4 separate regions of the Homo sapiens genome follow, and regions 2, 3 and 4 are each linked to region 1. The links come from fine-mapping of genetic effects on gene expression. A gene starts in region 1. Each other region holds a variant in brackets. All regions are shown on one strand. Distances are from middle to middle. Region 1 holds the start of CYB5B (cytochrome b5 type B). Region 2 has its middle 18 kb from the start of TERF2. Region 3 overlaps CYB5B (cytochrome b5 type B). Region 4 overlaps CYB5B (cytochrome b5 type B).

Evidence for each region. PIP is the estimated chance that this variant, and not a neighbour inherited with it, causes the effect. A credible set is the group of variants that fine-mapping cannot tell apart.
Region 2: its variant is the best candidate, but not a certain one, in a credible set for the expression of CYB5B in neutrophils (Naranbhai 2015, PIP 0.84).
Region 3: its variant is the best candidate, but not a certain one, in a credible set for the expression of CYB5B in subcutaneous fat (TwinsUK, PIP 0.68).
Region 4: its variant is the best candidate, but not a certain one, in a credible set for the expression of CYB5B in sun-exposed skin (GTEx, PIP 0.53).

What each region holds. Positions count from the first base shown.
Region 1 is chr16:69,420,904-69,429,161 of GRCh38, forward strand. CYB5B (cytochrome b5 type B) reads left to right here and starts at 3,716. Exons shown (of 5, transcript NM_030579.3): 1 at 3,716-3,954. The coding sequence starts at 3,781. RefSeq lists enhancers at 2,999-3,546, 3,547-4,094.
Region 2 is chr16:69,399,957-69,408,214 of GRCh38, forward strand. No RefSeq gene overlaps it. Among named protein-coding and RNA genes, the nearest start is that of TERF2, 18 kb to the left of the region's middle. The variant CA/C (reference allele first, on the strand shown) is at 3,799.
Region 3 is chr16:69,456,816-69,463,873 of GRCh38, forward strand. CYB5B (cytochrome b5 type B) reads left to right here. Exons shown (of 5, transcript NM_030579.3): 4 at 2,278-2,306; 5 at 5,615-7,058. The coding sequence ends at 5,705. Among named protein-coding and RNA genes, the nearest start is that of CYB5B, 36 kb to the left of the region's middle. The variant T/C (reference allele first, on the strand shown) is at 4,235.
Region 4 is chr16:69,447,232-69,455,489 of GRCh38, forward strand. CYB5B (cytochrome b5 type B) reads left to right here. Exons shown (of 5, transcript NM_030579.3): 2 at 1-47; 3 at 884-913. Among named protein-coding and RNA genes, the nearest start is that of CYB5B, 27 kb to the left of the region's middle. RefSeq lists a silencer at 7,745-7,962. The variant G/C (reference allele first, on the strand shown) is at 3,396.

The DNA of each region.
Region 1 (8,258 bases):
ACTTGAGTCTGTGACAATTTCTCAATCTTTCCTTTTTTTTTTTTTTTTTTTATGAGCTTGTCAGTTTTGAGGAGTACTGGTCAGGCATTATGTAGAATGTCCCTCAGTTTGGGTTTACCTGATGTTTTTCCCATGCTTGGACTATGGTTATGGATTTTGTGGAAGAATGCCACAGTGGCAACATGCCCTTTTCATCACATCACACCGGGGGTACATGCTGTCAACATGATTTATTATGGAGATGTTTTAATTTGATCACTTGGTCAACAAGCTGATTTTAAATTGTGTGTGGGGCCGGGCATGGTGGCTCATGCCTGTAATCCCAGCACTTTGGGAGGCCGAGGTGGGCGGATCACCTGAGGTCCGGAGTTTGAGACCAGCCTGGCCAACATGGTGAAACCCCCTCTCTACTAAAAATATGAAAATTAGCCAAGTGTGGTGGTGGGGGCCTGTAATCCCAGCTACTCTGAACCCGGGAGGTGTAGGTTGCAGTGAGCTGAGATTGTGCCATTGCACTCCATCCAGTCTGGGTGATGAGAGTGAAAAAAAAAAATGTATGTGGAAATACAAAGGATCTAGAATAGCAAAAATAATTTTCAAAAGTTAAGAGCAAAGCTATAAGACTTATATTACCTGATTTAGTGCCTTACAATAATCAAGACTGTGGAATTGGCACAAGGATAAACAAATAAGTCATCGGAACAGAGTAGAAATTTCAGAAGGAGAACCACACTTATATGATCAATCAATTTTCGACAGATACAGGAAAACAATTCAAGGGGGAATTGTGTTTTCATCAAATGGTGCAGGAACAAGTGGGTATCCACATGGAAAAAAAGAGGCTAAGAAACCTGCCCAAGGTCACCAAGTTTGTGAGTGGCAGGGACAGGTATTCCAAGCCAGACTTTCTGGCTAACATGTGCTATCAATTGTAAATATAAATTTATAACCAAAACATTTAGGTCACAATAATTTTTCAGTGTAAAATTCAATTTGAGGCTATACTATTTAAAAATGTCAATGTCATGAAAGCAAAAGCAAAGTTAAGGAAATGTTCTAGATTAAAGGGGACTCAAGAGACTTAGCTAAGTGCAATACATGATCCTGAACTGGATCCTGGGTCATACAGGCACACTAAAATTTCACAAAGGACATGAATGCAATAATGGAAAATAATATGGAGAGTATGTTAGATAATAATTTTGTGTGAATGTTAAATTCTCTGAATTTGAAATTCATACTGCAGTTACGTGACAATATGTTCTTATTTTTAGAAGATACATGTAGAATTATTTGGCTGTAAAGGGTGGTGATATCTGAAATAGTTCAGCATTATTAACAACAATGATCAAAATAATATGGAAAAAATCAAATATTGAAAAATATTAACAGTTGGTAAACCTAAGCTAAAAGTATATGGTCATTCATTGTATTATTCTTGTAACTTACTTATTTGAAATTCTAAAAACATTTTCAAATATAATGTTACAGGTATATATCACTTAAGTGCTAGAATTTGTAATTTTTTTATTTTTTATTTTTATTTATTTATTTTTATTTTTTTGAAACAGGGTTTCGCTCTGTCATCCAGGCTGGAGCACAGTGGTGCGATCATACATCACTGCAGCCTCGACTTCCCAGGCTCAAGCCATCCCCAGATCTCAGCCTCTCAAATATCTGGGATTACAGTTGTGTGCCACCATGCGTAGATAATTTTTGTATTTTTTGAAGAGACAAGAGCCTCACTATGTTGCCCAGCCTGGTCTTGAACTCCTGGGCTCAAGTGATCTGTCCACCTCGGCCTCCCAAAGTGCTGGAATTACGGGGCTTGAGCCACCACATTCAGCCTGTAAATGTTTTTATTTCTTTCAGAGATTTTGTTTCTTATGTTATCTCTCTACTCCCAATGCCTATCATAAGACTTGTAACAGTAAATAGTAAATGTCTGGAATAAATGTAAATATTTGAATCTAGAGTTTGTGGAGGATCCTAAGAATCTTGTGAGATTGCTCTCATAGTGTCAGTCTAACTAGGGAGGTAAAATACGTAAAGTTAAAATTTACAGACGTAGCAGGCTTCCCAAAATAGTAATATGCTTTCTTAGGTACTACAAAGGGATGGAAGCACTGGAGCTCAAAACGGTAGGAGAAGTTTGAAAATAGAAGAAACTGAAGAGGAACTTGAAAAGCCGGTAGGCATTGAAAGGAAGAGGAGTCCTTGGGACAGCAATTGAGGGTAGAATGTGGAGTATCCCATGTTTCTACCACCATTCAGAATCCGATTTTCAAATGAATTCTGTGATGATCAGGATCAATCTGCACTATTTTAGTCTCTAAGTGATCTAAAATTAACTTGGTGGACCTGGGATGACCACGGATGTGGTTTTAAACCAGCAGGTTTCAGAGTCGGGGCGGGTGCAACAGGCTTATAAAGGGAATGGTGGAAAATATTATACGTTAGTGAAAGAGGTTGCGAATGGATTGTGGAGAGCCCTGAATGGTAGACTGCGAGAGTGACAGGATGAAAACGACGACATCATAGGAAGAGCAATCTGTCAGTTGTAATGGCAGTTAAAAAGTGGCGCACAACACTGTACCTTAACCAAACTTGGAATTCCAAAGTGCTGGGACCTCTAGCGGAGAGCAGTTGAGTTCAATTCTATTTTAGATCACGTAGAGACTAAAATAGTGCCGATTGATCCTGATCATCACAGAATTCGTTTGAAAATCGGATTCTGAATGATGGTAGAAACATAGGATACTCCACATTCTACCCCCAATTGCTGTCCGGGACAGCAATTGCCTTTCTAATCGACTGCCATGTTTAGCGATTACTATGCGCCAAGCGCTTTACAGGCACTCTCATTAAAATAGGCAAACCGGGCCAGGCGCGGTGGCTCACGCCTGTAATCCCAGCACTTTGGGAGGCCTACGCAGGCGGATCACCTGAGGTCAGGAGTTCGAGACCAGCCTGGCCAACATGGTGAAACCTACTCTCTACTAAAAATACAAAAATTAGCCGGGCGTGGTGGCGCATGCCTGTAGTTCCAGCTAGTCGAGAGGCTGAGGTAGGAGAATCGCTTGAACCTGGGAGGCGGAGTTTGCAGTAAGCCGAGATCGTGCCACTGCACTCTGGCCTAGGAGACAGAGCGAGAACTTGTCTCAAAAAAAAAAAAAAAAAAAAAAAAGGCAAACCCCTCTGTAAGAGAGTGCTTTATCAAGCCCATTTTACTGATGGGGAAATTGAGGAGAGACGGGATTGGCCAGATCACGACCTGGAGGCAGCAAAGATGTAAAATCAGGGTTGGGATACAGGCTGCGCCGGTAGTGTAGGGGATAGGAACTTTCTGAGACTCAGGAGAAAGCCACAGCGATGGGAAGGGAAGCAGAACACTGGAGACCCTAAAGGCCCACAGGCTGAGAGAAGTGGTACCTCTCCTGAAGTGACACCTGTCAGCACGCCTCTTTTGGGCGCCAGTCCAAAAATCGCGGTATCTGATTGGCGAGGTTGGAGGGGGCTGAACGACCCTAATTGGTTAGTTGGACCTCGAACCAGACTTTCATCTGGAGGATCGGGCGAGGAGTGGGCGGGATTTCGAACTGAGCCACTCCCTTCATTGGTGAAAAGAAAACGAACCAGGAACTATTCGGAAGTGTGATTGGCTGTTGCTAGGAACCGTCTCAAGGCCTTATGGGCCCTGGTTACGGAAGCCGAGGAAGGCTGAGCGCGGGCTCTCAAGGAAAGTAGTCGCGGAATCTCAGTTAGCGGTGGAGAGGCAGTATGTCCGGTTCAATGGCGACTGCGGAAGCTAGCGGCAGCGATGGGAAAGGGCAGGAAGTCGAGACCTCAGTCACCTATTACCGGTTGGAGGAGGTGGCAAAGCGCAACTCCTTGAAGGAACTGTGGCTTGTGATCCATGGGCGAGTCTACGATGTCACCCGCTTCCTCAACGAGGTGGGGCCTGGGAGGTGGGAGGCCTCTGAAGCTGCTGGGGCGAGGGGTGAAAAGGCTGTGTGGAGTGTATGTGGGAAGGAAGGGAGGCTTGGCTGGGGGCGATAAGGCGTAAGAAAGGGATCACGACCCTCAGAGGGAAACTGGGGTGGGATTGGGGGAGGGCTTTAGTTTGCATGCATTTCCAGTCAGCTCCGAGTTCTGGTGCCTTATGTAATATCATGTATTACTTATGTGTCGAGCATTTGCTGTGTGCTCAGCTAAACTCTAAGCCATCATTATCTTTATTTTACAGAAAGGGAAACTGAGGCTCACAGGTTGAGGACTCTCAGGGCCATAGAGTTAGCAGCTTAGATCCGTTGAACCTAGGTCTGAAGTGCACCCACATCTGTGCTTTTCCAGTGTGCCTTCTGAAGTAATACCGGTTTTGGTTTTCGTCTTCTAGAGTAGAAGCTGAGATTTCTCTCCACACGCTTCCCCATCTTGATTATGCCTCCACTGTTTTTTTTTCCCCCTAATCTGAGTTGACCTTGAGGCCAGAAACTCATAAATCAACCCTTTTTTTTTGTTTTTGACTCATGTTTTGTCATTTTTCTTAAATATTCAAGACTGTTTTATTTAATCTTCAAGTCTGTTGCATTACATCTCATTTTAAAAATTATTTTTGAGACCATGGTGCAACTAATTTTTTTTTTAAGGAAACAGGATAGACTTCTAAATATTTAAAACTTTATTGAGGTGTAATGTACATACGTAAATTGTGCCTATCTAAAATGTACATTTTGATGAGTTTTGAAAAATGTATTCATCCATGTTAAGACATAAACCATTTCCATCATTCTAAAAAGCTTCCTTTCCCTTTGCAGTCATTCTCTCCCAACCCCAGGCAACTAGTGATATGCAGCCGCTAAAGATTGGTTTGAAGCTTTGATTTTCGGTGTGTGTATGTTTGAAGCTTTGATTTTCGGTTTGTGTGTGATCATTTTATTTTGAGCAATAGATTAATGACTTGTGAAAGTTCACTTCTATTTCTCTGAAGCAAATATACTAGTGAAATATTTTTTCGATTAATTTGGGGCCTAAAAGAGAAATCTCTGCATCCTGACTTTTAATTCTAAAAACTTTTAAAATTTAAAAGTTTCCCCCAAAGAACATTATTTTTAATAAATCTTAATAGTGAACAATAATTTAACAAACTCAGAATTTACTAACTTCTTGCATTTGTATGGTGTATGGCATTTTATGCTTTTAAAAGTGCTTTCCGGTCGGGCGCGGTGGCTCACGCCTGTAATCCCAGCACTTTGAGAGGCCGAGACGGGCGGATCACGACGTCAGGAGATCGAGACCGTCCTGGCTAACACGGCGAAACCCCATCTCTACTAAAAATACAAAAAATTAGCCAGGCGTGATGGTGGGCGCCTGTAGTCCCAGCTGCTCGTGAGGCTGAGGCAGGAGAATGGCGTGAACCCGGGAGGTGGCACTTGCAGTGAGCCTAGATTGCGCCACTGCAGTCCAGCCTGGGGGACCCAGCGAGATTCCATCTCAAAAAAAAAAAAAAAAGTACTTTCCCGGCCAGGTGTGGTGGCTCACGCCTGTAATCCCAGCACTTTGGGAGGCTGAGGCGGGCGGATCACGAGATCAAGAGTTCCAGACCAGCCTGACCAACATGGTGAAACCCCGACTCTACTAAAAATACAAAAATTAGCTGGGCCTGGTGGTGGGCGCCTGTAATCCCAGCTACTCAGGAGGCTGAGGCAGGAGAATCACTTGAACCTGGGAGGCGGAGATTGCAGTGAGCCATGATTGCACCACTGCACTCCAGCCTGGGCGACAGAGCGAGACTCCAAAAAAAAAAAAAAAAAAGCTAGTGGAGGGTGACTTGGATAGTAGTGATTTTTTTTTTTTAACAGAGGTACAAGTAACAGGTTCAGAAAGATCCTGGTCATACAATCAATTAGTAGCAGATTTGACAGATCCCTTGATTTCTCTTGTCTGCATAGCATTACTTCAAAATTCTAGCCTTAGCTATGACTTCTGGTATTTGCTTCATAGTAAGTTTCATGCTAAAGCATGGTTCATAATGGGTAGAAAATCAAGTTTTTTGGCTGGGCGCAGTGACTCATGCCTGCAATCCCAGCACTTTTGGAGGCACAGGCGGGCAGATCACCTGAGTTCAGGAGTTCGAGACCAGTCTGGCCAACACGGCGAAACCTCGTCTCTACTAAAAATACAAAAATAAGCCAGGCTTGGTGGCACCTGTGATCTCAGCTACTTGGGAGGCTAAGGTAGGAGAATCGCTTAAACCTGGGAGGTGGAGGCTGCAGTGAGGTGAGATGGTGCTGCTGCACTCCAGCCTGGGTGACAGAGTGAGACTCCATCTCAAAAAAAGAAAAAAAAAATCATGTTTTTCATTTGTGGTTTTATTTCCCTCCATTTTTTTTCTTGATTGATTCAGAATAGATGGTGAGCTTGGAGGGAACACTCAGCCCTTACAGAGAGCATTAATTCAGTCTCAAGTAATAGTTGCTAACCTGTTTCTTTCTTTTTTTTTTTCCTCTGTGAAGATTCCAGAAGTAACTAACCTGTTTCAACCACATGCTGATATAGCCAGAGACATCACTAATGTGCCAAGGTTTCTCTTGGAGCTTGAGCTGCAGCTCTTTACCTGCAGTTTTGTTTTTTTTGTTTTGTTTTTTGAGACAAGGTCTTACTTTCACCCAGGCTGGAGTGCAGCTCACTGCAGCCTCAGTCTCCTGGGGTCAAGTGATCCTTCTATTTCAACCTCCCGAATAGCTGGGAAAAGGTGTGCACCACGACGCCTGGCTAATTTTTAAAATTTTTTGTAGAATTGGGGTCCCACTGGCTGGGTGTGGGCTCATACCTGTAATCCCAGCACTTTGCGAGGCGAAGGTGGGCAGATCATGAGGTAAGGAGTTCCAGACCAGCCTGACCAAAATGGTGAAACCTCGTCTCTACTAAAAATACAAAAAAATTAGCTGGGCGTGGTGGCACACACCCGTAATCCCAGCTACTCAGGAGGCTGAGGCAGGAGAATCGCTTGAACCCGGGAGGTGGAGGTTGCAGTGAGCCAAGATGGTGCCGTTGCACTCCAGCCTGGGCGACAGTCAGACTCTGTCTCAAAAAAAAAAAAAAAAAGAATTGGGGTCCCACTATTGCCCAGTGTGGTCTGGAACTCCTGGGCTCAAGGGATCCTCCTGCCTGGGCCTCCCAAAGTGCTGAGATTACAGGTGTGAGCCACTGTGCTCAGCCTAATTAGCTATTCTTATTTATTCTGTTTTCTTGTTCATTCCAAGCCTATTCATTCATTCACTTATTCAAATATTTATTAAGCCTTTACTATGTTCTAGACACTGTTCTAGGTGCTGGGGATTTAGTAGTGAATAAACAGCTATGCCCTCATGGAGATTACATGGCACAGGAGGCAGACGATAAGCAGAGTAAATAACTAAAATATATACTACATTAGGTAGTGGTAAGTGCTAAGAAGAAAAATAATACAGGGGGCTGGACACGGTGGCTTAGGCCTGTAATCCCAGCACTTTGGGAGGCCGAGGCGGATGGATCATGAGGTCGGGATTGAGACCATCCTGGCCAACATGGTGAAACCCCATCTCTACTAAAAATACAAAAATTAGCTGGGCATGGTGGCATGTGCCTGTACTCTCATCTACTTGGGAGGCTGAGGCAGGAGAATCACTTGAACCCAGAAGTTGGAGGTTGCAGCGATCCAAGATTGTGGCACTGAACTCCAGTCTGGTGATAGAGTGAGACTCCGTCACAAATGAAAAAAAAAAGAAAAATAATACAGGGAAGAGGACTGTGGAATATTTATGTGGTGTGAGGAGGAGGGTTTGAAATTTTAGCGATGGTGCCGAGATAACTTTATGAAGATGACTAAGTAAAGGCCAGGAGCAAAGTAAAGGAGCTAGCCATGAGGGTATCTGTAGGAAGAGCATAGAGCATTCCTGGCAGAGGAAACAAGTTCAAAGGCCTTGAGATGGGAGGATGTCTGGTATGTTTGAGGAACAGTCAGGGAGGCCACAGTGGTTGAATAGTTGCACATGAGATCAGAATGATCAGGGGAGGACAAATCATGTACAACTTCACAGGTTTTAGGAAGGACTTTGGCTTTTATTCTGAGATGGGAAATCATTGGAGCAGAAGAGTGACATGATGTGACTTAATGGCGTAATAGGATCGTTCTGACTACATTGTTGTGAAAGACTGAAGGAAGAGTGTGTCTGGAGTTGGTTCCTTCCGGTGGGTTTTTGGTCTCTCTGACTTGA
Region 2 (8,258 bases), 21 kb before region 1:
AAACTAACCAATACATACATTCAATAAATGTTAGCTCTTACTATTATTTAAAATACTTCATCAAAGGTTTAGTAATAATGGAAGTAATTACATTTCAGGAAAGGAAATTTTAAATTGGCTACTAGATAGGACTATATAAAATAACTTCTGGAGTAGTACTGTCCCACAGAACTTGCTTTTTCTTTTTCTTTTTGAGACAGTCTCACTCTGTCACCCAAGCTGGAGTGCAGTGGTGCCATCATAGCTCAATGCAGACTTGAACTCCTGGGCTCAAGTGATCTTCCTGCCTCAATCTTCCAAATGGCCTCCCAAAGTTCTGGGGTTACAGACGTGAGCTACTGAGCCTGACTTGAATTCACAATATCGGCTCACTGCAACCTCCACCACCCAGGTTCAAGCGATTCTCCAGCCTCAGCCTCCTGAGTAGCTGGGATTACAGGTGCCTGCCAACACGCTCGGCTGATTTTTGTATTTTTAGTAGTGACAGGGTTTCACCATGTTGGCCAGGCTGGTCTTGAACTCCTGACCTCAGGTGATCCACCTGTCTCAGCCTCCCAAAGTGTTGGGGTTACAGGCGTAAGCCACTGCGCCTGGCCAGAACTTTCTTTAATGATGGACATGTTCTGTATTCGCACTCAATATGGTAGCCACTGATTATATGTGGCTTTTGAGCACTTAAAATGTGGCTTCTATAACTGAGGAACTGAATTTTTAATTTGATTTAACTTTAACACACTTAAGTTTAAAATTAAATAGCCACTTGTGGCTAGTGGCTACTGTGTTAGATAGCACAGTCTTGAGTATCCCAGCCCTACCTTTCACAAGGGTGTTTTACAGCTCTCTCTCTCTCTCCCTGGCCAAGGAAACATCTTCAGTCAGTTCTTCCACAAGCCCCAGTCTCAGGGCCACACCATAATAATCTACAGAGGTGCAAAATGCCCACGATGATGACAATTTTTAAACGGTAAATTTAGAGTTTCATTGTACCTAAACCTCATTCTAAGATTGCATATTGACTTTTTATTTGCACGACCGAATGTTTATTGACTATAAGGTACTTGTATGTGTGTATAATGAGAACTGTACAAGAATGTTTACTGAAAAACCAAACACCGCATGTTCTCACTCATAGGTGGGAATTGAACAATGAGAACACGTGGACACAGGAAGGGGAACATTACACACCAGGACCTGTTGTGGGGTGGGGGGAGGGGGATAGCATTAGGAGATATACCTAATGTTAAATGACGACTTAATGGGTGCAGCACACCAACATGGCACATGTATACATATGTAACAAACCTGCACGTTGTGCACATGTACCCTAAAACTTAAAGTATAATTAAAAAAAAGTTTACTGAAGCATTGTCTATAGTAGACAAAGGTTGGAATTAATCTAAATGCCTATCAAAAGAGAAATAGCCAAGCACAATGGAATATTGTATAAAAGTTAAAAAGGGCCGGGCACAGTGGCTCACACCTATAACCTCACCACTTTGGGAGGCCAAGGCAGGCAGATTGCTTGAGCCCAGGAGTTTGAGACCAGTTTGAGGAACATGACAAAACCCTGTCTCTGCAAAAAATACAAAAATTAGCAGGGCATGGTGGCATGTGACTGTGGTACCAGCTGCTTGGGAGGCTGAGGCAGGAGGGTCACTTGTGCCCTGGAGGTGGAGGTTGCAGTGAGCCAACACCATGCCACTGCACTCCAGCCTGAGTGACAGAGGGAGACCCTGTCTCAAAAAAAAAAAAAAAAAAAAAAGAATGACTATCTATAATAATCGTATAAAGTGTTCAATATTATATTATTGAGTGAAAAGAATCAAACTGCAGAATAATATATAGAATATAATTTGTTTTCTTAAAAACATGCATGTAAAAATACTACATGTTTATTTTCTATGAGTACATTTATATGTATGCAAAAGTATACTGAAAAGTCAGTGAGGATAGCCTCAAAACTCCTAGAAGTGATTTTTTTAGAGGAAGGGAGAAAGGAACTGGCGTTGTGGGGAGTGATTAAAGAGAACCAAAACTTTGTCTGCAATGCTCTAATTTTTTTCAAAAGGGAAGAATGTATTACCATATATTCACTAGTAATTAAATGCTAATAAAAATACAAAAAAAATAATGGTAGACTTTTAAAGGGGTAGCTTACTGTGAAATAAGATGAATAATTATAAATTTGTTATTCAAAGCCAAATTTTTTTTTTTTTTTTTTGCCTGACTAGTGGTCAAAAGGAGTCAGTAATCAGAGCCATCATCCAACAACTCTAGGAACCTTCTGGAACACAGACATTCACAAAAAGAGTGCAGATTTCAGTGAAACTCCTCTTCCACGTGTCACTTTTTCATGTTATATACATAAACCCACATAATGGACCATAAAAGTTTCATAGACCTTCCTTGTCACACAACCAAGCAAATGTACAACTCAAAGGAAACCAGGAAAAGACACAAGAGGTGTCCAAGTTCAGCTTCAGGAGGTCTCTTTTCTATGCTCTTCCACTCCCCCCCTTCCTCCCACACAGATGTTCCCTATAAATGAGCTTGGCTCTATGCAGCTCATATCAGAATGGGATTGTCCAAAACAGTTTGAAGAGAGGAACTCACACTTCCTGAAATGATTATCTCTTGACATAAATTCAAATTTAGGAAGGAACCGTCTAAGCCTTTTATAAATACCCATGATGCCCATATGTGACTCAAGACTGATTTTGTTTCCTCCTGTCCTCTTGGTACCTCTTTTATCTTACTATAGTGATGCTATGGCTTCGGTTCATGACTACAGTGAGTGACAGCTGGGATCTGGCCCTTTCCTCCTGCCCCAATTCATAAATGGTGGGCGTTTCTCATATCTCGAGGGCCCAGGTGCTTGGAAATACTGCCAAATATTCCTTTCAACTTAAAAAAAATGTAATTATACTGGATTAGGTTATGCATTCACATAATTTAAAAATTCTGAGGATACAAAGAGTATAAAGTGAAATTTGTTTCCCCATCTATGTTGTCCAGTTGCCCAGTTCCCTTCCCCAGTTCTACCAGTTCCTAGAATACCTTCCCCTAGATAGATATTTTGTACATGTTTAAAATAACATGTTTTAAATATTTTTAGTAGAGACAGGGTTTCATCATGTTGGCCAGGCTTGTCTTTACAGGCCCAGCATGGTGGCTCACGCCTATAATGCTAGCACTTTGGGAGGCAGAGGCGGGTAGATTGCCTGAGCTCAGGAGTTCAAGACCAGCCTGGCCAATGTAGTGAAACTCCGTCTCTACTAAAATACAAAAAATTACCCAGGTGTGGTGGCGCATGCCTGTAGTCCCAGCTACTTGGGAGGCTGAAGCATGAGAATCTCTTGAACCCGGGAGGTGGAAAGTGCAGTGAGTTGAGATCGTGCCAGTGCACTCCAGCTTGGATGACAGGATGAGACTCTGTCTCCAAAAAAATTTTAAAAATAAAATAACACATTTATATTTTCTCCCCTCCTTTTATTTTTTTATTTTACATTAGCAATAGAACACTATATGGGCCAGGTGCAGTGGCTCATGCCTGTGGGCCGAGGTGGGTGGATCACCTGATGTCAGGAGTTCAAGACCAGCCTGGCCAACATAGTGAAACCTCGTCTCTATTAAAAATACAAAAATTAGCTGAGCGTGATGGTGGGCGCCTGTAATCACAGCTACTCGGGAGGCTGAGGCAGGAGAATCGATTGAACCCGGGAGGCAGAGGTTGCAGTGAGCTGAGATGGCGCCATTGCACTCCAGCCTGGGCGAAAAAGCGAAACTCCATCTCTATCT[CA/C]AAAAAAAAAAAAAAAAAAAAAGAAAAGAAAAAAAAGAAAGAAAGAAAAAGAAATTAGAGAAGTATCTGGGATTTAGAAAGTTCAGAAAACTTGGAGAAGGGCCTTTGGCCCATGCGGTGGTTACTGAGATGCTCATTGTTTACGTGCAGTTGACTTCAAGATAGAAGGTTCAACCTCAGTGTCAAGCTCAACCTCCAGGACCCTCTTGGAGACTTCCAAGACCTAGGATGGCTGGGCATTCAGTGCTTTGGGAGCTGCCATCCTTCACCTGCTAGGGTTCTGTGTGGGATCGGGGTGGGGGTCTCTGTTACTCAGGAAACTGCCCTCCCTTCCTCCCAATTAGATTTGCACTTTATTACTTTTTTTCTTTAGCTTTTTTCGAGATGGACTTATACTTAAAAAAACCTGCTCTTAGATAATGGGTGGCAGGGGGGTAGAGGGGATTTGAGAAGACCTGGAAAATTCCCAGGTCTCCACTAAATAAGAAAACTGGAGAGTAAGGGGACTGGAGAGGAACGGAGAAAGAAATGTATTTTCTTTTCTTCTTGTAATCAGAACTGTAGCTTGCAATATTTTTTTCCCAAGCTTCTAAGAGAGTTTTGCAAACAATTGGAGTAATTAAAAGTTCTCAGAAGTAGCCGATGGTGCCCTTTTCACCGAGGGAATGTGGGCCAAGCATGATATATTAAAAGAGAGGGAGCTGCTCTATTGAAGTTAAAAATAATCTGTCACATGGCTAATTTGTTGGAATGCAGCAATAAAGGGCTGTGGGCAGAGGGAGAGCTGGAAGCAGCTGGGAAGTTTGCAGGCAGAGTGCACGCCCTGGGGACTGTGTTTGTAGGGAGAGAAAACAGTGTTACAGCTGCCTTAGGGCACCTTATCAGAAAACCCACAAAATGGGCAGGAAGAAGGAAGAGTAGGTTTGAGTCCAGAGCATGACCTTTGGGCTTATCAGACAGTGAAGGGATGGGTCAGAACTTGTCACCTGTGTTCACGGGATGCTGATTCACTCAGCAAGGATGAAGTCTTTTCAGATCCCCCTGCATTTGAATCCGTTTCAAAGGAATACATAATTCAAAGGAAGCTTTTGATCCGAAATCCATGGGAAAACCAATCTATAGGGTCTTGAGCGAAAAAAGTTCAAGCCAGGAATACAAATCCTAGTTTGGGGGATTGGGGATATTATAATTTTTGAAATGTTAGAGTTGAAAGAGAGAAAACAAATTATTTAGTATAATCCCTGAATTTTCCCTTCCTTCCTTCCTTCCTTCTTTCTTTCTGTCTTCTTCTTTTTTTTTTTTTTTTTTGAGACAGAGTCTTGCTCTGTTGCCTGGGCTGGAGTGCAGTGGCTCGATCTTGGCTCACTGCAACCTCTGCCTCCCGGGTTCAAGTGATTCTCCTGCCTCAGCCTCCTGAGTAGCTGGGACTACAGGCATGCACCACTGCGCCCACCTAATTTTTGTATTTTTAGTAGAGATGGGGTTTCACCATGTTGGTTAGCCAGGATGGTCTCGATCTCTTGACCCTGTGATCTGCCTGCCTCGGCCTCCCAAGTGCTGGGATTACAGGTGTGAGCCACCACGCCCGGCCTACTCCCTGAATTTTCTACATGAGGCAACAGGCTCAAAGAGGTTGATTTGCTCAAGGTCACTCAACCAGCAAGTAACAGAGCTAGATTCAAACCCAGGTCTTTAGCTAGAAAGGAAGGGCATAGTGGTTAGCAAATATAGGGTTCAGAATGCCCTGATGTCAAATCCTGGCTCTACCAGCAGGACCCTTGGGCAAGTTTCTAACTCCTCTCAGTGTTAGTTTCATCATCTGTAAGATGGGAATAACAATAGTACCCACTAGAATTGCTACAATGTATGTAAAGTGCTAAGTATGACATCCAGCCTAGAGGAAAGGCTTAATCAAACACTAGATGTTATCATGCCACAGCTTTTTCATCACCCTGCATCAAATTTCTAGAGCTTTCCGCAGATTAACTTGTCCAAACATCCTCTTTGGTTTGGGTGGGATTCTCTTTCTCCCTTTCCCACCTCCAACTCTCACCCATTATATATAAAGAAAAAGAGGGTGGCCGAACTTTAACCTCTCTATCCTCTGGTAGACACTTTCGCTAGCATTTCCTACATTGTAACACACCCATGAGACTTGTTTTCTCTTAAGCTACATGCCCTCCGGCCTGTATTTTCAGTATGGTTTCCAAGTTGCTGACAGGCAGAAACGGTGCCAACATGAAGAAGCAAGTATTGCTGCCCCAAATGCAGCAGCAAGATGTGTTTGAATGTTTTAGAATAGATGATCATTTTTCAAATTCATAATGGGCACCGCTCACAGAGGGGGCTCTTAACATACAAGGCAGGTCTGGGCTCATAGTTAGCACTTCTGGAAAGTGGAGGCCGAGTTCTGTGTGTGCACATACCAAAGAACAGGAGCCTACCTCCAGCAGCTTGGGCAAAAGCAAAGGTGAATTTAGTGGCTCAAGTAACCAGAAGACCAGATTTCATTGATGACTAGATTCAAGTGTTCACTAATTAGACACATTTCTGCTTTGTTGGGCTCCATTCTTCAGACTGATTCTTTCTACTTGGCAGAAAAAAAAACATCTACAGAGAGTCTAACCTTTACTTTTTCTCCAGGTTAGTTTTTTTTTTTTTTTTTGAGACAAAGTTTTTGCTCTTGTTGCCCAGGCTGGAGTGCAATGGTGTGATCTCGGCTCACGGCAACCTCCACCTCCCGGGTTCAAGTGATTCTCCTGTCTCAGCCTCCTGAGTAGCTGGGATTACAGGCATGCGCCACCACGCCCAGCTAATTTTATATTTTTAGTAGAGATGGGGTTTCTCCACTTTGGTCAGGCTGGTCTCGAACTCCCGAACTCAGGTGATCCACCTGCCTCGGCCTCCCAAAGTGCTGGGATTACAGGCTTGAGCCACTGTGCCCAGCCCTGTTTTTTTTTTTGTTTTTTTTTTTTTGAGATGAAGCCTCTCTTGATTGCCCAGGCTGGAGTGCAGTGGCATGATCTCTGCTCACTGTAACCTCCGCCTCCCGGGTACAACCAATTTTCCTGCCTCAGCCTCCCGAGTTAGGGCTACAGGTGTGTGCCACCACACCCGGCTAACTTTGTATTTTTAGTAGAGATGAGGTTTCACCATGTTGGCCAGGCTGGTCTCAAACTCCTGGTCTCGTGATCTGCCCGCCTGGGACTCCCAAAGTGCTGGGATTACAGGCATGAGCCACCCTGCCCAAACTGGTCAGTATTCTTAAGGAAAGTATGTCACGCCTCCCTGAGTTGTCTTTCCCTGATTGGCTGCTTTAAATCACATGCCTATTCCTGAAACAATAGGGCTAGGAGAACAGGCTTCTCTGATTGGACAGAGTGGATCACATGCCCAACCCTTGTCACCAAGGGAAGGCGGAGCATACTGATTGGCAGCACCACTACTTCACACAGAATGGAAGAGGAACAGTTCCTAAAAGAAAAATTGGAGCTACAGAAACCAGAAGACAGGGAAAGGGATACAAAAGTCCATGACAAGACCTACGTGCATTTTCCTTGGATGGTGGTTCATAGCTTGCTTCACATCCTCAAAGTTATTGTATAATCCAAGAAATAGTAAGACTTTTGGGGCCAGGCACGGTGGCTCATGCCTGTAATCCCAGCACTTTGGGAGGCCGAGGCGGGTGGATCATTTGAGGTCAGGAGTTCGCGACCAGCCTGGCCAACATGGTGAAACCCTGGCTCTTCTAAAAATACAAAAATTAGCCGAGCATGGTGGCGGGCGCCTGTGATCCCAGCTACTCGGAAGGTTGAGGCAGGAGAATTGCTTGAACATGGGAGGCGGAGGTTACAGTAAGCTGAGACTGCACCACTGCACTGCACTCCAGCCTGGGTGACAAAGCAAGGCTGTTTTCTTAAAAAAAAAAAAAAAAAAAAAAAAAGAATTTTTGGAGAAGAAAATGCTTCCTCCTACTCCAGATATTTCCTTTGGTGTGAAGGGCCATCAACTACTATAACGCTCCAGCCTCCTCTTCAGCCCTTACTCCTGCACATAGGGAAAGGAGAGCATTAGCATATTCCCAGCCCCAGGAGAAACTGGGCATGAGTTGCCGTGTCTTCCTCTTCCTGGTATCTGAGGATCAAGAAGGGAGCACAAATTCTCTCCCTCCACATGGGAGGGTGCTCCGGTCCACCGCTGCTTGTGACTGATGGGACAGTCTGTCTTATTAGGATACAAGGACACACTCAGCCACATTCTACAGCCTATAGCCTTCATCAGAAGATAATCCATCTTCTGACTTTTTTCCCCCCTCAATTGATTTAGAGCCTGAGTAGGGAGGAAGTGTGTTATTTATTTATTTATTTATTTATTTATTTATTTATTTATATATTTTTTGAGACAGCATCTGAGTCTGTCACCCAGGCTGGAGTAAAGTGGAGCCATCTCGGCTCACTGT
Region 3 (7,058 bases), 35 kb after region 1:
GTTAATAGAACTTTTTTCATTTCAGTTTAAAAACAAGCGATTTGGTTTATTTCCAAATTTGGCTGAGAGTCCTGGCTGCTAAGAGCTGTGCCTTCAACATCTCTTTGATTATTATGTATTTGATTAAAAGTGGGGTCACTATGGTTTGCATCTACTTGGCTATCAGTATCCTAAAGGGAGTGTATGCCTCTTTCTCTTCTCTTTCCTTTAATGGGTTAGACAGGTTGGTCTTTTTTTTGCGTCCCCAGGGATGGATTGATCTTAAAACAGGCACATTTTGCAGTACTTAGTTCAAAGAACACCATATGTTTTAAGTTATTTATTGTTTAGAAATTTTTACATTTCAGCATAGTACGGTTTTGGCTGTCTTTGTTCTCTTTCTTCTTCAGTTGCTTATTACCTTTTTCTAAGGCTCACCCTACTTAGCAGAGATCCAGGGCTTTTGATTGTAAAAGAGGCTAAAAGCTTTGAAATTTAGAGAATCCATTTATATGAAGTATATGATTTTTACTCTAATTATAGATTAAACATCATAATACATATATTATGCTGTGATGCTCTCATATAAGCCTTTCAAATTATCCCTTTTAAAAATAGTAACTACATTTTTTGTCTATAAATCATTGGTATTTATGTAGCTAAAGCATAAAAGACCATGAACATTTTCTTGATGGAATTCAATTATTTCTCGGTTACTGTAGTGGAATATTTATTTTAAAAGGCAGCATTATAAATTAACTTGATGCACATACTACCATCGCTACCACTCCTACCTTCCGAATCTGTAGATAGTAACATTTGTTGTATTTTTCAAAGATTGACTTGTAACTCATTTTAATTAATCGGATCCTTACTAGACTAGTTGAAATGTCCCAGATAATGATAATCATTAAAGTCTTAAAGAAGTATAGAAGTATGTTAATATGGTTTCTTTAAAACCTTTCGTTTGCCATTTTTCTTGCCTACAGACTAATTTCTTTCAGGTTTGGGGCATGTATTCATTTGCATGACAGTGTTTTGGATATATGAAATTAAAACTCATTTCATGGACTGCTCTAAAGTATATTGGGGCCAATGTGATTGGTTTCTGGAAATTCTTGGAGATTATTGAAAACGGTGGTTAAGCAGAGCTAATATTCCATGTTCATACCCTGATATACTTCTACATTTTGCAAAGATGGTATTTTGGGCAGCAGCAACCTATGCTAAAGGGTTATTGTCCTCTGGCAGTAAGTTAGCAGGCCTTTTGTACTATACAGCTGGTTAATGGAATCAATAACTCGTTTGATACTTGAATTGAGTAAAAAAATTGTAATAACAGCTTTATCGTGATACAATTCACATACCATACAGTTTACCTATTTAAAATGTACAAATCAATGGTTTTTAGTGTATTTACAGAACTGTGCAGTCTATTTTAGAACAATTTCCTCACTCCAAGAAGAAACCCCATATTCATTAGCAGTCGTTTTCCATTTCCCCACAACTCGTCCTCCTCACACCAGCCCTAGGCAACCACTACTAATCTACTTCTAACTCTATTGATTGTCCTGTTGTGAACATTTTATGTAAACAGATTTATATAATATGTAGTCTTTTGTGTCTGCTTTCTTTCACTTAGGATAATGCTGTGAAGTTTGTAGCATATATCAATACTTCAGTACTTTTTATTGCCAAGATTTGTTTTTTAAGATTATTTTATCATTTTCTTTCCCTTGACTCCATTTTTTCTCTTTTCATTGTGAAATCAATTCTAAGGTCTCCTGTCATAATTATTATGATTTCAAGGAGTGAACCAGTATATTTTTGTGATCTACAAGCAATCATCTGTATGATCTAGAGCATTTCACAGTTGATCTACATGTTAGAAGAGCTTTTTGGACTTTAAAAAATGTTTTTAGAAAGTGTGATGTTAGCTATTGCCAGTGGCAAGCCCAGCTGAACCAGGTACATCATCATGACCACAGAGTAGTCCATTTCAATATAGTTTGTATCATTAACATTTTTTAACATCTAAAAAAGTTTAGGTCATTTCTATGCTTTCATTAGTGATTCTTCACTAGGAAGGAACCTAGTGAAGTGCCAGTATGTTATCAGAAATAAAATTCCCAGTCTATCCATTGCTTATATATTTGTAAACACCAAAATGCATGAAAGATGAAGTTCTGGTATCAGTTACAGGGTTGACATAGCTTGATCAAGAAAATGTACATGTGCTATGTTAATCTTCTTTCTTTTTGTTTGTTATTTTTGAATTTTTTTTTTTTTTTATTTCAGGACCCTTCAAAAAATGATACATGCAAAAGGTTAGTATCTCCTTAACAGCTTTCCATACGTTCAAGGTAATGTCTGGCAAGAGACTCTTCCATAAGTATATGTATGTAACATAACTTATGAGTGCAGTTTGACAACTAATTCTTTTTTGGCCCAAATCATTGCAAATTCAGTTGTTCCTTGACATTAGAAAAATTAACTTTTACAGTTTCAGCCATTTTGAATAATCTAAAAGTTTCATGCCTTGAGTCATTTTTTAATCTTATTGTGACATAAATTGGAATCACACTCAGTAAGAGGCCAGGATGCATGGACAGGTAGCTACTATTGGGTCAGCCTTTAGTCCCGAAGTTCAACCCAGCTACATGATTCTACTTAAAACTTAATCGCATTTACTTCTCACAACCACTCTGTAAGGTAAGTGCTATTATTACATATTGCAGGAGAAAAAAATACTACGGTCATATTTAGGAATTTGGGTTTTCTCAGGTTTATTTACAATATATTCCTTGGCATTAATATTAGTAATTCATTAGTATTAGCTCTGAAAGTTATAAATTGCCTTACCTTAAGTGCCTCTATCTAAAATGACTGTGGAATCCTTGGCTTGTACAGTATCTTTGTGGAGATTATATAGAGCTAGCCATTCTATTTTTTGGACATCTCGAAGTATTTCAGAGAAAGAAAATATGTCTTTTTTTCCCATAAAGTATCAGATCTATTACTTGAGGTAACGGACACAGTATAAAAAATTACAAACTATTAGTAAATTTAGTTTCCTTAATATTAAGGGCTTAGGATCAGCGAAATGCTGCATAAAAATTTTGAAAATACAAGCCACAAAATTGCAGATTTTAAACAAAACTTATGCTTATGCAGGGCCGGGCGCGGTGGCTCACGCTTGTAATCCCAGCACTTTGGGAGGCTGAGGCGGGTGGATCATGAGGTCAGGAGTTCGAGACCAGCCTGGACAACATGGCGAAACCCCATCTCTGCTAAAAATACAAAATTAGCTGGGCATGGTGGTGCGAGCTTTGGGAGGCCAAGGCAGGAGAATCGCTTGAACCTTGGGAGGTGGAGGTTGCAGTGAGCCAAGATCGCTCCATTGCACTCCAGCCTGGGCAACGAGAACGAAACTCCATCTCAAAAAAAAAAACCAAACCTTATGCTTATGCTATAAAACTTAGACTTAAGCAAAGCATAAAACTGATAAAGAATTATTAGGTAGAAGATATAAAGAATTCCTACAAATCAGTTTTTTAAAACCTCAGTAGAATATGAGAAAAAGATTTAAGCACTTTACAGAAAAGGAAACACAAATGTAAACATATGGAAATGAGGTTTAATCTCATTCATCATTAGTGATATGTGAATTAAAATCATAGGTATATTTCATACCTAACCAGATTGGTAAAAATTAAAAATTTTGCAAATAAGAGTTGGTTGGAAAGTTTATCACCGACTCTTAAGCACTCCTAGGGTAATGTAAATGAGTATAATCACTTTGGAAAACAGTTTGGCATTATCTAGTAAATTTGATAGGATGACTTAACTTTTGACCCAGCAATTCCATTTCTAATGATATACTTGATAGAAATGTGTGCCCAGGTACACCCAGAAATATATGCAAGAATGTTCATAGCAGTGTTATTCGAGATATTCAAACATCAGAGACAACCCTAATAAATTGTGGTATATTCATACAATGGAATACTACAAAACAATAAAAATAAAGGAATCACAAACATGTAGTAGTCTAGATGGATCTCCAAGAAGAAAAATCTGTCTTATGGTAGGAAGTTATTGTTGAACCTGAATCTCCTGTGATGCAGTATAAATGTATTTCCTCTGGTTCTCTCCTCAGTGGCAGTTAAGTATTAGGAAAGATTATGTGAGGATTGGTGTCAACCATTCTCAGTCTTTTGTACTAAAGAAATTTTCTGGCCGGCGTGGTGGCTCA[T/C]GCCTGTAGTCTCAGCAAACTGGGAGGCCGAGGTGGGTGGATCACGAGGACGGGCTGAGACAGAAGAATGGCGTGAACCCCAGAGGTGGAGCTTGCAGTGAGCCAAGATCGCGCCACCGCACTCCGGCCTGGGTGACAATGAGACTCCGTCTCAAAAAAAAAAAAAAGAAAGAAAGAAAGAAATTTTCTCCTTCAATGTTTTCTCAAGGATCCTACTTTTGGATTCTTCAGTCTCTTGCGGTTACTCTTCAAGGAGTCTGAATTCATTACTCTTATCAGGAGATTACTTCAGAGTTCCCATGTGCATATTGCTGTTATACGTGCCATATTGCTTGGTTTTGTAAACAAAGCTACCTGGCTGATATTCTAAACTAGTCCAGAGTAGCTTTCTGCTGTACGTAAGCATACAGAGTGCTAGGCATGTTTAGGCAAAGAGAATCATTTTTCTTATGAACTTCAGCTCGTTTTATTGACTTCAAAACCTTTTAATACCAAGACTCATATGTCTTAAGTAGAGGGGCAGCCGGGTCATTTGGATCATGGAAGAATTATACCTTAAAACTAGTGTGCTAATAAGTTCTATTAAAGAATTATTATGTTAAGGAGAATGATGACTGTTCTGAAGCTCCTAAGGAAGGTCTCTTGCAGTACTTTTGAAGCTGCCATTTGCTTCACCCTGTTAGAACTGTATATGCTTTGTGTGTATGTGTATCCTTATTAGTGTCCAAACTTAACTAGGGATTAAGAGGATGGGTTTGGAATCAGACTGTCCAGCTGCCTTTCTAGCTTTGGGATTTGGGGTGCAAAGCTTATATTTCCCTTGTATGAGATGAGAATAATAACCCTATTTCGTAGGTTATCCTATTTCATAAGGATTAAATCTTTAAAATACATATGAAGCAGATAGGATATTTCTGGTAGTTATATTAGATATGATTACTTCCAAATTTATATTGGGATGGATATGTTTTTATACATATATGAAATGTCACATACATAATGGTGTTTTTTCCTGTTTAAAAATGTTTAATTGTAGAATACGTGAAAAGCAAAAGCACAATGAAGAAAATGTGAGAGTATCCATAATCCCTAACTCAGAAATAACCACTATATGACTTTGTAGAAACACATATAGAGGCATTTAAAGACATCTTATTTGATATCATACTATTGGTTGTTTTTAACCTTTTAAAAAATTACTTTGTAATATTGTCACTCCAATTCAAATATTTTTCCCCAACTACTTTGTGATAAAAGCAGTTAAATTTCCCAAAGTAAATAAAAACTCCTTGCCTATATAAAAACATGTGAAAGCTGAAAGATAGTGAACATTTGGCTTAAAATATTAACAACTTTATTGCTTTCTCCCCCTATTCCTAGTTGCTGGGCATATTGGATTTTACCCATCATAGGCGCTGTTCTCTTAGGTTTCCTGTACCGCTACTACACATCGGAAAGCAAATCCTCCTGAGGAGGCCTTGCTGAAGTTAGAAAGTGCATCCACTTTGGGGCGAAAACTAGAGACTTGCTTGGGGGCTGCAGAAGTGCCCTCTCCTCGAATCCTGCCAGTTGCATTCTTCCCCCTTGGAGCCAAGACGATTGGCCAGACATCACCTCAGATCTGAGACCAGCGTCTTCCATCTCTCAGAGCCTTACTCCCAAAGTACCTGCTCACTGTTCCGTGTTGAACAATTGCCGGTGTTTCCTCTCTTCACTGGTTTCCATGAGTACCCTTATATTTCACAACTTTCTGTTCATAAGTTATAGTGACATTGCTCTTTGGTAAAAATGCCTGCTTTCCAATACTTTGATTGCATATTAGACATTCTTAACAGGGCGGCAGTCTAGTGTTGAAAGTTTTATTTTTCCATTTTTCTTTTAAGTAAATTTTTTTTAAAAAATTCTGATTTAGGGCTAGGTGTGGTGGCTCAGGCCTGTAATCCTGGCACTTTGGGAGGCCAAGGTGGGAAGATCGCTTGAGGCCAAGAGTTCAAGACCAGCCTGGGCAACATAGCGAGACCCCTATCTGTATTAAAAAAAAATCTGATTTAATTCTTTTATTTATCATAAGGGGTTTAATTCCTGAAGTAAAGGTTTGCACCTATTAAACTTAAAACTGCCAAATGATTTTTGTTCTTTTATGTGCGTGATAAAAATACAAAGAATGGTGTGGCCACCTCCTCCCTTTCAAGCTAGGGCAGCAGGTAGCTCTTCCCAGCCCCTGAGCCCAGCCCCTTCCCAAGTGGTGCCGGACAAAAAACTACATGGCCCTTTCGTGTCTTGGGGGTGGAAAGGTAGGGATGAATTGGGGTGATAGAACCCTGGTGAATTCAGAGTAATCTTTCTTTAGAAAACTGGTGTTTTCTAAAGAAACAGGATAGGAGTTTAGAGAAGGCACCAAAGCTTTCACTTTGGTTTGGCACCAGTTTCTAACCATCTGTTTTTTCTACCCTAGCTATCTTTTATTGGTAAAATATAAATGTATAATTATGTTTGTAGAGCTTTACCAAGGAGTTTCCCTCCTTTTTTGTTTGTTGATTAGCAAATTTTTGATTCTCCATTTTCCAAAAGTAAGAGACTCCAGCATGGCCTTCTGTTTGCCCCGCAGTAAAGTAACTTCCATATAAAATGGTATTTGAAAGTGAGAGTTCATGACAACAGACCGTTTTCCATTTCATCTGTATTTTATCTCCGTGACTCCAACTTGTGGGTTTGTTCTGTTTTTCCATGAGAATAAAATACTGGCGGTTTTTTTCTCAGATGTGTGTTCATTGAGAAGTAGGTTACTAGAATTATGTTACTGTGTCTTATTGGTTCAATGATG
Region 4 (8,258 bases), 26 kb after region 1:
ATGCCAGAGAAATGCTAAAGCAGTACTACATTGGTGATATCCATCCGGTAAGAACTATCAGAGATGGGAGCCCTTATGCAGAGAAAACTACTTAACAGCTGCAGAACAGGATGAAGAAATGAATTATTGGCTGGGCGTGGTGGCTCACACCTGTCATCCCAGTACTTTGGGATGCCAAGGCAGGCGGATCACTTGAGGTCAGGAGTTCGAGACCAGCCTGGCCAACATGGTGAAACCCCACCTCTACTAAAAAATACAAAAATTAGCTGGGTGTGGTGGCGCACACTTGTAATTCCAGCTCCTCAGGAGGCTGAGGCACGAGAACTGCCTGAACCTGGGAGGCAGAGGTTGAAGTATGCCAAGATTGCACCACTGCACTCCAGCCTGGGTGAAAGAGCGAGACTCTGTCTCAAAAAAAAAAAAAAAATTATTAAAATGGAAATTCATTCAATCTAGCCATCAGGCTAAATTTTCTCCAAAATTGTCTAGTCTTACTGTGCTAGGATATAGCTTCTTCTTTGCCAGGTAGCACATGTAATATCTCTAAAAAGCTAAGGGAACTGATTCTGGATTATTTTTATGTGTTGATTTATTTTTGTAATGCAGTTAATAACACCTTTACCTAAAATAGTGGTTTGCTTGTTTTTGCAAGCTCCTTGCTAAAGGTAGTAATTATGGACTTTAAAAACTATCCATATATACCATTCTAACAAGGGACTCTGATATGCTCAGAGTAGAGGTATCTTTCTATGGATCCTCAAATCTCCCAGGGAATTCACTATCACCAGAATATAGTCTCATGTTCCAAAGTTAGAAACAAGCATATAGTGAGAATTCATTTGGCTATGTCTTAAAATATTATTTGTTTTCCTTTTTTTGACAGAGTGACCTTAAACCTGAAAGTGGTAGCAAGGTAAGAAGTCAGCGGTTTGTCTTGTGTTTATATTTGTGTTTACTCAAGTAGGACTGCTTTTTGAAACATTTTTTCTTAACAAGAGAAGTTACAAAGTATTTACTTTTTCCCCAAGCAAAAATCCTATTTTTCTGGAATTTGGACTCAGTATCATCTCAGGAATAAAAGAATAGCTGAGTCTTGAACAGTAGGAAACATTTTGCTAATGCCTTTATACGCTTTTTTTTTTTAACTGAAACTCCAAAGCTATGCCCTGTGTGGTTTTGAAAGAAATTAGTTTATGGGTTCAGTTGTGGAAAAATATCTTACTTTTACATTATGTAGGACAAGTGATAATAATTGTTTCTGTGTTGGAAAAAAATAATTGCAAAGTTGTTTTGTTTCTTATAGGTTATCTTCTTTATCTGTAATACAGAGGCCTTTCTGTACTTATTTTCCAAATTTAATTCTTTTTTCCTGTAGGCTCAAACAGGCCCACACCCTTCCCGGTTACTTAGTAATACAGCGAAAACAAAAGACTAAGTATTTGAGTGTTTGAAAACTTTAATGTGTACTACATTGCATACCAGGAAGAAAATATGGAACCATTTTCTGCCTCCCACATGCTAGGTGGTTCATTTCCCTTATTCCCTAACAATTTTCCTTAATTTCTGTCCTTCAGATAGCTGGTACACAGCACTCTAATTTAAAGGGACAGCAGTTTAGGTGCCACCTAGAACATAGGAAAGTGATGCTGCCTCCCTTCCATTTTCCTCCTCCTTGCTGCTTGCTTCCCATTCCTCATTGAGCCGAAATTACTGAATAGGTTTGACACAGCAATTAAAGTTGGCCTAGACACAAGAATTCTATTAACTCAAGAGATTGCTTGCTTAACAGTGTCTGCCATCTGTTGCCCTGCAATCCAGAGTGTTTGTGTAAATTAACTCTTCCATGTTGCTAGACTGCTACTCTGAACTATTGAATTGTTTCTGAAAGGGGAATGAAATGGTTCTTAAAACACTTTGTAACAACTGTTGGTTGTTTGTCCTCTCCTCCTAACACATGTACTATCCATTCTTGAATCCTTAAAAAAAAAAAATTAAATAGTTCAAAACAGTATTCTGTAAAAAGTTTCTTCCTGTCTCAAGCTCTCAGTGTCTTAGTTCCCCTTCCCTGGAGGTAACCAGCCATCATTTTTTGTTGTTGCTTACTCTTAATAACTTGTGTTATTATGGTAAAATTTGAACGAAGCGTGGCCTTGATTTGTATATTGAACATGTCCAGAAAATACCACTTTCAGAGGTCAACATCTGATTCAAAGGATATAGGAGCCATAACACATTTCTGCACAGCAACTATGAGAGCATCTTTTATATTAAAACAATAGAAAAAATATGTTTGCAATTACAATGTCTAGAAGTCTACAGATTGCTTCTTGTTGCTGTTTTTCTTTCTTGGTAGTACAGTTAGGACCATTCTTAGGAATGTAGAACAATGTTCCCCAAATTCTGTTCTTGTATCACCTCAGTTGGAATCCCTTGGTATGTACATGAATATATATAGGAAATGTTTATTTCTTGGGCTTCTACTCCTACTGCTTTGGAATCTCTGGAGATAGGGTTTAGGAATTTGCAATTTAAGTAATCTAGGTGATAAGTAGGTAGCTAAGCCCAAACTTTTTGCTGAATGATATGCCCATCTTTTCATTTGAAAACTTAGGAAAATTTAATTCTCTTCTGTGGTAAGCATTGTCTGCCTTCTATAGGCCAAAGGATTAGAGATTTCTCAGCTGAATTAAAACTATTGAGCCATCCAGGTGCAGTGGCTCACGCCTGTAATCCCTACACTTTGGGAGGCTGAGATGGGAGGATGGCTTGAGCCCAGCACTTGGAGACCAGCCTGGGCAACATGGTGAGACCCTGTCTCTATTTTTTAAAAATCATAAAATTAGCTGAGCATTATAATGTGTGCCTGCAGTCCCAACTACTGGGGAGGCTGAGGCTGGAGGATAGCTTGAGCCCGGGAGTTTGAGGCTGCAGTGAGCCATGGTAACACCATTGCACTTCCATCTGGGTAACACAGCATGACCCCATCTCAAAAAAAAAAAAAAAAAAAAACCCAAAAAACTATTGAGCCTTAGATTTTTTTGTAAGAAAGATAGAAAAAGAAAGCATTTAAGCTCACCAAGTTCTATAATAATTTAGAAGTCTCCAAATGTAGTTTAGCCCCTATCTGGGTTAAAAAGTGACTAAAGGCAGTGTTTTCAATCCTGTTTTCCTCATGTCACTGTACTCAAGGGACATGTCTTCATTAAGTAGAGAGTCTGGCTATTGTGTTTCTAGTCACTCTGCTCTACTTCAGGCAGATCAGGCAAGAAAGGCCTTTTGGAACATTTTCAAGACCACCTACATAGGTTTTTATAGAGCTATATTCCAACCTGACTTCAGTTCCAGGAAGAAATTCTTGATCTCTCAGATTTATTTCTTACAGAGGTTTAAATAGG[G/C]ACTTGGTGTCTAGGATGTAGGTATCTCTCTTCTCCATACTTTATCTGGTTTAAACATTCACCATTAAGAAATGGAAATGGAGTTCATTTCATTGGTTACCTTCCTTTCTCTTGGTTCATGGTTTCTGAATCTTTATGAAGAAGTGATTTTTAAAAGTCAAATTAAAAAGTATCTTCAGCCTATGGGAGAGAGTTTTCATTTCCATTTTCCTTCTTCTCCTTCTTCTACTCCCTGTCTGAACTGCACCATCCCTACTGCCCGCCAAGAAAGAAACACTCAAAATGTTGCTATTCCAAAGTGTAAGTCAGTAACCATTCCCTAATTCTTTTAGAAAACACCTTTCATATTACTTTTATAACACAGGTAAATAATTAATGGTCACCATTGTTTTATTGTTAGATGGATAGTACCTGAGTTGAAGGCCCAGAATTAATATACTAAAAACGTAAAGACTTAAAAACTTAAAGATGTAGCAACAGATTTTTTTTTAACCCGCTTCAATCAAAAATAACTAACTAGAATTAAAAACCATTTGTCTTTGTGAATCTCTTCCTTGCTGGATTAACCCTCATGCTGAGAGCCGTCAATCTCCTACTTATATTTGACTTAACATTTTTCTGGTTTGTTTTTGGTTACGGAAACTCACCTTAGAAACAGACTCAGTGCTCTCTGTGCCAGTTTGCCTGCCTGCTTGCCTGCTCTTTAGCAAGTAACCTATAAATATTCGTGGTCTATGAATTCTCTCTTTGATGATGTATTTACTTCTTGGTTAGCTGTTTTATCACTTAATCTGCCATCAGTTCAAGAGATAAAGTGCATACAAATCGTAACCTGACTAAAAAAGTGGGCACCATTTCATTCATTTCTTCAACAGATATTATCTAGATAATAGTTCAACTGCTTTACTAGTTAAATCTTGTAGTCAAATAGGTCTAGTAATTTGACCTGTTCCCCATTACATTTTTTTTGAGTGAGTATTATAAAATGTACATGGTAAAAAAAAAATTTAAATAGTTCAAAACAGTATACTATAAAAAAAGTTGGCCGGGGGCGGTGACTCACGCCTGTAATCCCAGCATTTTGGGAGGCTGAGGCGGGCGGATCACGAGGTCAGGAGATAGAGCCCATCCTGGCTAACATGGTGAAACCCCGTCTCTACTAAAAATACAAAAAATTAGCCGGCCGTGGCGGCGGGCAACTGTAGTCCCAGCTACTCGGGGCAGGAGAATGGCGTGAACCTAGGAGGTGGAGCTTGCAGTGAGCAGAGATCGCGCCACTGCACTCCAGCCTGGGCGACAAAGCGAGACGCCGTCTCAAAAAAAAAAAAAAAAAAAAATTCCCTCGTATATCCAGCTCTGAGACTTTTAGTTCCCCTTCCCTGGAGGTAACCAGCCATCATTTTTTTGTTGTTGTTTACTCTTCCAAAGATTCCATGCATTCATAAGGATGGATGGATGGATAGACAGACAAACCAACCATCATTTCCTTTAAAAAAGTAAAAAGCTGGCCGGGCGCGGTGGCTCAAGCCTGTAATCCCAGCATTTGGGGAGGCCCAAAATTTGAGTAGTCCCAGGTACTCGGGAGGCTGAGGCAGGAGAATGGCGTGAACCCGGGAGGTGGAGCTTGCAGTGAGCTGAGATCGCGCCACTGCACTCCAGCCTGGGCGACAGAGCGAGACTCCGCCTCAAAAAAAAAAAAAAAAAAAAAGGTAAAAAGCCTCATACATACTATTCTTCACCTTGCTTCTCTTTACTTAAAAATTTTATTTGTTGGCTGCACACTGTGGCTCACGACTGTAGTCCCAGCACTTTGGGAGGCTGAGGTGGACGGATCACACGAGGCCAGGAGTTCGAGACCAGCCCGGCCAACATGGCGAAACCCCGTTTCTACTAAAAATACAAAAATTAGCTGGGAATGGTGGTGTCCCAGCTACATGGGAGGATGAGGCGGTAGAATGGCTTGAACCTGGGAGGCACAGGTTGCAGTGAGCCAAGATTGTGCCAGTGCACTCTAGTCTGGGTGACAGAACGAGACCCTGTCTCAAAAAAAATTTTTTTTTTATTCATCATTATTTCTTGTCAGTTTATTAACATCTTTTGGGCTGGGGGCGGTGGCTCACGCTTGTAATCCGAGCACTTTGGGAGGCCCAGCTGGGTGGATCACGAGGTCAAGACCATCTTGGCCAACATGGTAAAACCCTGTCTCTGCTAAAAATACAAAAATTAGCTGGGCGTGGTGGTGCACACCTGTCGTCGCAGCTACTCGGGAGGCTGAGGCAGGAGAATCGCTTGAACCCGGGAGGCGGAGGTTGCAATGAGCCGAGATTGTGCCAATGCACTCCAGCCTGGTGAGAGAGCGAGACTCTGTCTCAAAAAAAAAAAAAAGATCTTTCTCATTTTTTAAGTAGATATTTAGTATTCCATAGATGAAAGTGTTGATGTGATGACATTTGCTTTCGAAGGATTTGATCTGTTTTTTAAAACAAATAAAATTGTCTCCATAGAGGCTTAACGTGTTTTTTTAACTTCATTTTTAACTTAAGAAGCTTGACTTATGAAATCTAGTAAATTTTACATGTTAGAAGCAGTCTATTAATTGCATTTAAAGTTACATTTTTTCTCCCAGATGCTACTGACTTTTATTATACATACAGTTTTCTGTTATATAATGTATTATGTAACATACAGTTTACTTCTTTTATGAGAGAAACTAAAAGGAATATATTGTTTATAATTATGAAATATAGTTAGTTGATTACATCAAATTAAAAATTTTATTTTTAAGAATTATTTAATATCCCTACCATACCTACTACCTAATTTATTAAAGTTTGGAATGGGATGCTGATGCCCTTTAGACAAGCAGTGATTGCTATTTACCAGAGAATTTTGTCTGGTTATTTCCTGATTTCTTGTGTGTTTTTTTGTTTTGTTTTGTTTTTGGGCGGGGGAACGGAGTGTTGCTCTGTCACCCAGGTTGGAGTGCAGTGGCGCGATCTCGGCTCTGCAACCTCCGCCTCCTGGGTTCAAGCCATTCTCCTCCTGCCTCAGCCTTCTGAGTAGCTGGGATTACAGGCGCCTACCACCACGCCTGGCTAATTTTTGTATTTTTAGTAGAGATGGGGTTTCACCATGTTGGCCAGGCTGGTCTCGAACTCCTGACCTCAGGTGATCCACCTGCCTTGGCCTCTCAAAGTGCTGGGATTACAGGCATGAGCCACCAGCTACTGCACCTGGCTTATTTCCCATTTTCATATACACTTATATTTTGTAACATAATCTTTTGAAAGAAAGCATAGAATGTGATGACAAAATTACTCCTGAAAGACAAAATACCCTTTGCTGAGGGTTCTCAAGGACTAATGTCTTCTATTGGTAAAGCTCTACTTAGAAATGATGTATAGTTTTGCAAAACAGGGTTCAGAAGGGTAAGGAAACATTCTTTTCAAATCAGCCCTCCAATGTTATAACAAATTTTTCACTTCTTAAGTCCTGATAGAGATCATCCTGTGAATGTGTTAATTTTTTTTCTTGAGTGAGGTGTTATATATTTTATCACAATGAGTTCTTAAGAGAGTTTATAGCAATTTGTTTTAGGGGCTGTTTTTCATCTTTGAATTTTGCCATATCTACAGGGAAATTTTTTTATATAACGGTTTGACTCTAGGATTATATACTTTGCAAGGCAGTAATTGTTAAATTATATTCACATCCAGAAAGAAATGGTTCTTACTGACTTGAATATTTTAGTACATTGGAGCTTCATGAGAAGGCTGTCCTCAAGATCCATACCACATGACTGTGTCATAGTTGGGACTGTAAAATGCTGAAATCATATACCTTCAATACTCAAAACATTTTAGGTGGTAAAATGAACCTAATATTAAAATTCATATAGTGTTAGCTCATGCTATAAGGTCCATGGTATTAAGGGGGAGAAATCTTTTCCAGTTTAGAATTTGAAGCCAGAAGTTCCCAACTTGTTTTTCATAAGTTACTGGCCACAGGGATACCAAAGTGTTCCAAATTCAAAGCTACACAGTCTCTACCAGACCACCTAAATACCCATTACATTTGCCAAAGGTGTCCTGTGGCTTAAAATCTACTTTTTCCAATTTTAAATACTTAGAATCCTCTTGGAATAGCAATGTAGGAATTAAAACATAAAGTCTTTATATACCTTATATTTGCCTTTTAAGCTTTTGAAAGCCTAAATGTAAGCTGTATAGGCTGAAGGTATAATGCCCTGTTTTTTGGGGTTTTTGTTTTGTTTTGTTTTGTTTTTGAGACAGAGTGTCACTCTGTTGCCCAGGCTGGAGTGCAGTGGCACGATCTTGGTTCACTGCAACCTCCGCCTCTTGGGTTCAAGTGATTCTCCTGCCTCAGCCTCTCAAGTAGCTGGGACTACAGGTGTGTGCCACCACACCCAGCTAATTTTTTTGTAGTTTTAGTAGAGATGGGGTTTCACCCTGTTAGCCAGGATGGTCTCGAGCTCCTGACCTCATGATCCGCCTGTCTCGGCCTCCCCAAGTGCTGGGATTATAGGCATGAGCCACTGCACCCGGCTTCCCTGTCTGTCGTAATGCGTCATAATCATGATTCTGGTTCATTCTTTCCTACATTTATGTCCTGATGACAAAGTACACTCCATTCCTTAAGTGTGTGCTCTTCTCTCATGTTTTCTCATAAACAAAGTTCATCGTGAAATCCACACCCATTGACCCCCACATCCTTTCTATGTGGTTGCCAGTTGAGACATTTCTTTGTTGTTCTCTTTTTTTTTTTTTTTTTTTGGTGGGGGGACGAAATCTCACTCTTGTCACCAGGCTGGAGTGCAACGGTGTGATCTCGGCTCACTGCAAC